Regions from separate parts of the Homo sapiens genome. Here region 1 is linked to region 2. The links come from fine-mapping of genetic effects on gene expression. A gene starts in region 2. The other region holds a variant in brackets. All regions are shown on one strand. Distances are from middle to middle. Region 1 has its middle 7.2 kb from the start of AP2A2. Region 2 holds the start of LINC02688 (long intergenic non-protein coding RNA 2688).

The links. PIP is the estimated chance that this variant, and not a neighbour inherited with it, causes the effect. A credible set is the group of variants that fine-mapping cannot tell apart.
Region 1: its variant is the best candidate, but not a certain one, in a credible set for the expression of LINC02688 in hippocampus (GTEx, PIP 0.67).

What each region holds. Positions count from the first base shown.
Region 1 is chr11:916,438-920,817 of GRCh38, reverse strand. No RefSeq gene overlaps it. Among named protein-coding and RNA genes, the nearest start is that of AP2A2, 7.2 kb to the left of the region's middle. RefSeq lists enhancers at 136-635, 1,315-1,609. The variant C/A (reference allele first, on the strand shown) is at 1,981.
Region 2 is chr11:1,047,995-1,052,374 of GRCh38, reverse strand. LINC02688 (long intergenic non-protein coding RNA 2688) reads right to left here and starts at 2,495. Exons shown (of 4, transcript NR_160890.1): 1 at 2,413-2,495; 2 at 532-752. It overlaps LOC124902605, which reads right to left and starts at 2,683. Exons shown (of 4, transcript XM_047427955.1): 1 at 2,601-2,683; 2 at 2,413-2,496; 3 at 532-752.

The DNA of each region.
Region 1 (4,380 bases), 130 kb after region 2:
ACTTTGGGAGGCCAAGGCAGGTGGATCACGAGGTCAGGAGTTCAAGACCACCCTGGCCAACATGGTGAAACCCAGTCTCTACTAAAAATACAAAAAATTAGCTGGGCGTGCTGGCGGGAGCCTATAGTCCCAGCTACTCCGGAGGCTGAGGCAGGAGAATGGCGTGAACCCGGGAGGCGGAGCTTGCAGTGAGCCAAGATTGCGCCACTGCACTCCAGCCTGGGCAACAGAGCGAGACTCAAACAACAACAACAACAAACAAACAGCTCCCTGACCATCACCTGATGGTCAACTGACTTTCCTGGTTGGGGGACGGGGAGCAGGGGAGCCCTCTCCCGCACCGCTCACGTCTGACTGGCTACCTACTGTAATAGGAAGGCAACGTGGAAATCCTGGGAGCCCCCTTCCCAACCCAAGGGGTAGACCAGTGGCGCGGCTGACGACTAGTGACACCCTCAGAGGGTCTGATGGGACAGGCCAGGGTATATAGCCTGAGTGCTGCGGTTTTTAAGAGCACACGAGGCAGTTCTGAGGTGTGACCCATTTTACCAGCCTGACTAGCCCGCACTGGACTTCCATGCTGTCAGACGCCAACCACACGGTGTTATAGCACATGCCCATTCCGATCCCCTGCCCAGCCAGCCTGGCAGCAAAGTGGGGCTGGGGGACTGTCATGAACCTCTGTGGCCTCACTCACTGACAATGCCAAGGAAAGCCACTGTCCTGGCCATTTCTCCCACGGCAGCAAATCCCATCAGCCCAGGCCCACGCCTTGGCCTCCCAAAGTGCTGGAATTACAGGTGTGAACCACTGTGCTCGGCCCAGCTCTGGGAATTCTAATATTAAAAGGAAGAGTGAAAGAATGTAAACTAAGAAAAAACCCACAACCGGCCAGGCATGGTGGCTGACCCCTGTGATCCCAGCCCTTTGGGAGGCCAAGGCAGGTGGATCACTTGAGGTCAGGAGTTTGAGACCAGCCTGGCCAGCATGGTGAAACCCCGTGTCTACTAAAAATATGAAAATTAGCCAGGCATGGTGGCGGGCACTTGTAATCCCAGCTACTGGGTAGGCTGAGGCACGAGAATTGCTTGAACCCTGGAGGTGGAGGTTGCAGTGAGCCAAAATCACACCACCGCACTCCAGCCTGAGTGACATGAGTGAGAGTCTGTCTCAAAAAAAAAAAAAAAAAAGAAAGAAAGAAAGAAAAAGAAACAAGGAAAAAACCCACAGCCTCTGGCACTCCAAATGTACAGAGAGTGTCAGCACTGCTGATTGCTTCGGGCCTAGCAGGGATGGTAGGACACCTTTATTACCTCCCTGCAGAGCTGAGCCAGAGTTCTCTGCTGGTTTAATTCCCGGGGACTCGGATGTCACATGGTTCACTGGCTACCCAATGAGCAGGAAGCAGCATGTACACTGTGTGCCCTGCAGACCTGCACGTGTGCCGACGGCAGAGACTGCGAGTCCAGCCCTGCCGCTGAATCTCCCCTCCTTCTACAGTAGCTGATCTCCTGACTTGGTGGGCATGTGGCCGCCCAGAATCAAGACTACATTTCCCAGCCTCCTATGCAGCTAGGCATTGCCTGGTGATAGCAGAACGTGCAGGGAGATTGTATCTGGGCCTGCCCTGCAATGTACCATAGCCTGGGCAGTTGGAACAACAGAAATTTGTCTTCCTATAGTCCTGGAGGCTGGAAGTCCAAGATCAAGATGTCCACCGGGGCCGGGCCCGGTGGCTCACACCTGTAATCCCAGGACTTTGGGAGGCCGAGGAGGGCGGATCACGAGGTCAGGAGATCAAGACCATCCTGGCTAACATGGTGAAACCCCGTCTCTACTAAAAATACAAAAAATTAGCCGGGCGTGGTGGTGGGCGCCTGTAGTCCCAGCTACTCGGGAGGCTGAGGCAGGAGAATGGCGTGAACCCAGGAGGCGGAGCTTGCAGTGAGCCGAGATCGCACCACTGTACTCCAGCCTGGG[C/A]GACAGAGCGAGACTCCATCTAAAAAAAAAAAAAAAAAAAAGATGTCCACCGGCATGCTCTTCCTGAGGCCTCTCTCCTTGGCTTTATGGATGCCATCTTCTCCCTGGGTCTGCACAGGGTTGTCCCTAGGTACTCCTCTGTGTCCTCATCTCCTCTTTTTTTTTTTTTTTTTTTTGAGATGGAGTTTTGCTCTTGTCCCCCAGGCTGGAGGACAATGGCATGATGTCAGCTCACTGTAACCTCCGCCTCCCGGGTTCAAGTGATTCTCCAGCCTCAGTCTCCTGAGTAGCTGGGATTACAGGCATGTGCCACTACATCCAGCTAATTTTTTTTTTTAAACTTTTAGTAGAGCTGTGGTTTCACTGTGTTTTCCAGGCTGGTCTCAAACTCCTGGCCTCAAGTGGTCTGCCCGCCTCGGCCTCCCAAAGTGCTGGGATTACAGGTGCAAGCCACTGTGTAAGGCCATAATCTCCTCTTCTAAAAAGGACACCAGTCCTATTGGATTAGGGCCCACCTTACTGACCTCATCTGAACTAATTACATCTGCCACAATCCTCCAAATTAGGTCACATCCTGGGGCACTGGGGTTAGGACTTAATATATGTGTTTTTAGGAAATAAAATTCACCCCGTAACAGAGGTGACGTGTGCCCATTTGGGGCAGGATGTTGAATTCCTGCCTGCCTTTCCACCCCCTCCTCAGAACACAGTTTGAGGGCTAACACTCCGTCAGGAACAGCATGGCTGGGGGCTCTGCCACACTCAGACAAACCTAGATCCTAACAAACACCTAATGATTACCAGGCCTCAGTGTGCAAGGTGCACCCTAAGGACAACGTGGGGGGCGTCATAAAGCCTCTGGGGCTCCAGGGCATATCGGGACGTCCCCCATTCTGTCCTGTGTCTCATCATCAGTACCGCCAAGCCCATTCCCACAGGCACCATCAGTCATCAGTAAATGCTCCCCCACCTCCCCAAATGCCCAAAGCCACACAGGAGCCATACAGCAGGTGACACCAGCTGGGGGAGGGGTGGGGAGGTGCCATGAAAATCCTGTTGTTCCCCCACCCACAGATGCTGCTACTCCTGGCCTCCTGTTAGCCCCAGAGCAGGAGTCTATAGCCTCTGGGCTCCCTCAGACCCCCGTGGAGCAATGCCCCCCGGCTCTACTGGCCAGACCAGCTGAGGCCAGACCGGCCCTGCCCACAGTCAGTTTCCCAGCACCCGAGGGGCTCCCTGGCCAGGGGGTTCTGCAGCAAGCACTTCCTTCCGGGCGGGCCAGCACCCACCCACCTGGCCTCCAGCCCAGGCTTCTCTGTGGGCCCAGCCAGGTGAACTGGTGGAATATTCGTCAATTTTAAGGTTGGTCTGAGAAAAAGAAAGTTAGAAAATAAGCACGGCACAGTGGCTGACACCTGTAATCCCAGCACTTTGGGAGGCCGAGGCGGGCAGATCACCTGAGGTCAGGAGTTCAAGACCAGCCTGGCCAACATGGTGAAACCTTATCTCTACTAAAAATACAAAAATTAGCCGGGCATGGTGGCGGGTGCCTGTAATCCCAGCTACTCGGGAGGCTTAGGCAGGAGAATTGCTTGAACCCAGGAGGTGGAGGTTGCAGTGAGCCAAGATGGTGCCACTGCATTCCAGCCTGGGCGACAGAGCGAGACTCCAAAAAAAAAAAAAGGAAATAAAGCATACTGACTAAAATTATCACTGCAGGCTTTCCAAATGGCCATATGAGCTTCCTAGGACTCTCTGAAAAATGACCACAAACCAGAGGCTGCAACTCAACAGAAACGCATTCTGGCCTCGCCGTTCGAAAGGCAGAAGCAGGTGTCAGTGGGGTTCGTTCCTTCTGGAGGCCCCACCCCCACGTTCACCCCTTGTATCTCTCTCAGTGCTGCCTCTCCCTTCTGTTCCCTTTTTTTTTTTTTTTTTTGAGACGGAGTCTCACTCTGTTGCCCAGGCTGGAGTGCAGTGGCGAGACCTTGGCTCACTGCAACCTCTGCCTCCTAGGTTCAAGCGATTCTCCTGCCTCAGCCTCCTGAGTAGCTGGGACTACAAGCGTGTGCCACCACACCCAGATAATTTTTGTATTTTTAGTAGAGATGGGGTTTTGCCATATTAGCCAGGCCGGTCTTGAACTCCTGGCCTCAAGTGATCCACCCGCCTCAGCCTCCCAAAGTGCTGGGATTAGCATGAGCCACTGTGCCCGACCTCCCTTCTCTTCTTACAAGGACCCCTGTCATTGGATTTAGGGCCCACCCTATATCCAGAATGATCTCATCCCAAGATCCTCACCCTAGATACCTCTGCAGAGACCCTATTTCTATTTGTTGTTGTTGCTGTTGTTTGAGACAAGAGCCTCACTCTGCCTCCCGGGCTGGAGTGCAGTGTCGC
Region 2 (4,380 bases):
AGCGTGGGGGCAGGTGCCCCAGGAGGGGGAGGGGAGGGCATGGCCTTGGTTGCTACCAGCCCCCGCACTGGCATTCGGGCAGCATGGGGGCACATTTTGGGCCTGGGGGACTGTGCCATCGTGGCCAGGAGCACCTTGAGAAGCCAGGAGGGCTGGCCAGGGTGGGGCAGAGCAGAGCAGGGCAGGGACAATCTGCCCAGACGTCTCACCACCCCTCAGACACCCCCAGACTTGCCTGGGCCAGGATAAATACGCAGTCCTTGCCCCAAGGCCCAGAATTAGGTACGTGGGTACCTGCATGTCTGGCCGGGTCCCCTGCCTCTCTGTGCAGAATCCTGATGCCCCCTGGCAGGCCTAGGGGTTCAGCAGAAGCAGGTTGCAGCCCCCACACCCCTCTAATGGGCCACATAGAAGGTGGGCCAAGGGCAGTGGATGGGGGGCCTGGGACACAGCAGCTGGGACACTGCCCCAGGACCAGGGTCGGGTCCAGGAGTGGAGAACCCAGGGCAGTGACGGGGAGAGCAGACAGACCTGGGTTGAGATGGTGTCTGGGTGGGAGTCCAGGGGGCCGGGGGCCCAGCTTCCCAGGTGCCAGGGGAGCCCCCGCCCCTGAGTCCTTGGTGAGCTGAGTCTCCAGGGTGTGGTGCTCCCAGCATCCTAGCCAGGCCTTGTGGCTGCAGAGGGACAGAAACCAGGCCCAGCTTCCTGCTGGGGGGGTCACCTCTCCCCAGGGGTCCAGGACACCGCTGCATCTGAAAATGAGCAGGAAAGGGGTGCTCAGTGCAGCCTCAGGGCCTTGGGGACCCCCTTGGATCTTGCCAGCTCCCGAAATGCAGAGAGAGAGTCGGGCAGTGGGGCCAGGGCTACAGCCCCCATGTCTCCTCAACGTCTGCCTGGCTCTGTCTACCTCAGGGAACCAGGGCTCCTCATACCGGACCTGGCCTCTACCCGCCCAGGGCGCTTGGAGCAAAGACTGTGGTCCCAGGTTCCCCGACAGTGGAAGCTTCCCTGCCCAGCCCAAGCCGTCTGCAGCCAGACCAGAGGCTGGTGTGGCACCATGGAAGGTTCCGGAGGGCGAGAGCCGTGATGCTGTAGCCCGCCAGCAGGTGGCACCTGGCACCCGCACCACAGCCCGGAGGAGGGCTGGGCAAGGCGTGTGCTCAGGGCCGTGTGGCCCAGGTGTGTGCCTGCGTGTGCCTGCATGTTGGCAAGTCCGGTGCCCGGGTGGCTCTCAGGCATCTTGGGGAGAACAGTCAGCCCACAGCCGGGCCAGAGCCCTCTGGCCCCATTGATGGGAGGCTCTGGGACAGACAGCACTGAGAAGGGAGAGAAGCTGGGCAGGTGGGGCAGGTGGGGCCACCGGGCAGGCGTGAGGGTGACCCTGCCAAGTGGCACAGGGACGATCTGAGTCCTGCAGGGCCCGGCAGCGCCTGAATAATGGGAGAAGCTGTGTGAGCCGTGCACGGGCGGGACAGCAAGGCGGGCGGGCGTGGGTCCTGTACACACGGGTGTGGGTGTGGCTGAGCGACCACTCGCCCTCTCACATCCCCTGCAGTGAGCGTGGGGGCACTGGCCCCTCATTTCCCAGCCCCGCTGGGCCCACCTCCTGCCTGGCCCTCCCAGGGACTGACGTGTGGCCACCTACCCCTCGAACCGCAGGGGTTGCCTGTCCCCGCCTCTGTCCCTGCACCTCAGGCCCATCCCCGCCCTTGTCCCCGCACCTCGGGCCTGTCCCCGCCTTTGTCCCCGCAACTCAGACCTTTGGTGACACCTGTGGGCTCAGGCGCCACATGGGGCCCAGGACACTGGGGCCGCAGCACATCGGGGAGGGGAGGCTGCAGTCTGGGCCCAAGGGCATCCAGCCTCTCCACTCCCTCCCCGGTGACCTTGGGCAGGCTGCCCCCTCTCTGTGCCTGTTTCCTCATCTACGTGGGTACAGAACCCGTCTCCACCTGCAGTAAATCCAGTGATGGCGGGAGTGTCCCGCCAGCTGCACTCTAGGACCCGTTCGCTACAAGGATTGCACTGGGGGATGCCCTGTCCCCAGCTGGCCCGGCTCTGTCATGGCCTGGACCCTCCCTGCCTGGGCACGTCTGACCCAGAGAGAGGGAAGGCCACCAGGGCAACCCCAGAGGCCTGTCCAGCTCAGAGCCAGCCCCTCCTGCACCAGGGTCCCCTGAGATTCACCCTGACAGGCAGCAGGAAGGCAGGGTGCCTGGTGGCCTCCTTCCCCCAGGGATCTGGGGAGGGTCTGGGCTGGGCTCTTCTTTGACAGGCCGCCCGGGCCCCACCTCAGGCCTGGAGGAAAGTGGAGGGGTCCACACCGTGGCCGACCCTGGGACTGGAGACACATGGGCACCAGGACACGCGAGGCCCATGGGGGCCAGGGAAGTCCCCAGAATCCCCACTCACCACTCTGGGGTGGGAAGAGGCAGGGCCAGCCTGTCGACATGCATCTCCTGCTGTCCAGAGAATGCTCCCGACGTCCCCATTTTCCTACAGAAGAGGACATCCTTGCTGGGAAGCCGGTGGCTGCAGCCAGTCAATGGTGACTCCCAGAAGGTTCCAGGCCCCGCCCAGCCAGAACCCCAGAGCCAGACCTGGGGCCACAGGGCATGACGCAGCTCTGCCTATACAGGGACAGGCAGCTGCCCACGGCCATGGGCACAGGCTTTGAGGAAGCGACAAGGCTCTTGCACCAGCAGATTAAAATGCTGCCAAGCGGAAGAGTCTGTCAAAGCTCTCAAGGAGCAGCTGGTTCAGGGCCAGCAGGTGCTGGGGTGGTAGGGGGGCCCCTTGGCTGCTGTGACGGTGCCTGTCCCTGGCTCCCAGCCCGGGAGCCCCAGCAGTGCCTTGTACAGCCGGCCCAGACATGCAAAGGGCCAGAGCCCGGCACGCGGCAGTGTTGACTGTCATCATTGTTATTGCCATCATCATCATCATCATCATCATTGCTATTATTATATTATCATCAGGAAACTCACCTACATTCTGCAGGCTGTGGGTGAGGCCAAGGAGCAGAGGGCTGGGGGTTGATGTGGGCCGGCAAGGTCCAGGCCAGGAGGGTTCATCCCAGGGATGCCAAGACCCAGCAGAAGGTTAGCAGGGGAGGAGAGACCCTTACCCCAGGGTGACCCCACGGCGGGGGCTGCATGTGGGCACCAACTGGAGGCCTGCGGGAGGCAGGTGTGGCTCGGAGGCTCTTTGGCAAGGTGGGAGCCGGGGGTCCCTTAAGAAGTCCACCTTAAGAGGTCCTCCAGAGTGACCCAGGGAGAACCATTCTCCAACCCACCCACTCCTGGATCTCAGGCTCCCAGGACGCAGAGAGACTCTGAGCCATCTCCCGGGTTGTGCTGCTTGGTTATGGTGGCCCCAGGAAAGCGAATCAAGAGTTGCAGCAATGCTGCCCAGCCCCACGAGCAGGGAAACCAGAGCCAGGAGGTGGCGATAGGGACTGCGGGTGGGTGGACCGCGGGGCTGGGGTGTGTTCTCTTCCTGCTACTCTTCTACATTTTTCCAGGTTTTATTTAGTGACTATGTTCCACTCTGTATTAAAGTATCAAGATTCCATTTCATCAAGGACTAGCATTTTTAGCAAAGAGAGTAGCAGAGGCCAGGATTTAGCAACTAAAAAACTCCAGGAAATATGGGAAACAACATCTGTCAAGACGGTGGACATCAGGCGACGAAGAGAGTGGTCCCAGAGAGACAGCGGGTCCCTCCAACCTGGCTGCTATCCGGAAACGCCATGGCCTGAGCGGCATAAAAGCAACAGACACGCATCTCCACGGCTGCAGAGGACGGGACGTTCAAGATCCACACTCTGGCAGATTCGATGTCTGGTGAGGCCACTCCCTGGTTCACGGACGGCACCTTCCCACTGGGTCCCCTTCGCCTCTGGTAGAAGGGGTGGGAGAGCTCTCTGAGGTCTCTTTTTTTTTTTTTTCGAGACAGGGTCTCACTCTGTCACCCAGGCTGGAGTGCAGTAGCACAATCTCGGTTCACTGCAAGCTCACTTCCCAGGTTCGAGTGATTCTCCGCCTCAGCCTCCCGAGTAGCCGAGATTACAGGCGCCCACCACCATGCCCAGCTAATTTTCATATTTTTAGTAGAGACAGGGTTTCTCCATGCTGGCCAGGCTCATCTCGAACTCCTGAACTCAGGTGATCCACCTGCCTCGGCCTCCCAAAGTGCTGGGATTACAGGCGTGAGCCACCGCGCCCGGCTCTGGGATCTCTCCTGTAAGGACACTAACCCCATTCTTGAGGGCTCTGCCACCTCCCCAAGTCCCCACCTCCTAATATCGTCACCTTGGGCACCAGGATTTCAACACAGGAACCGGAGGGTGGGGAAGACACAAACGTTCAGTCCATGGCAGAC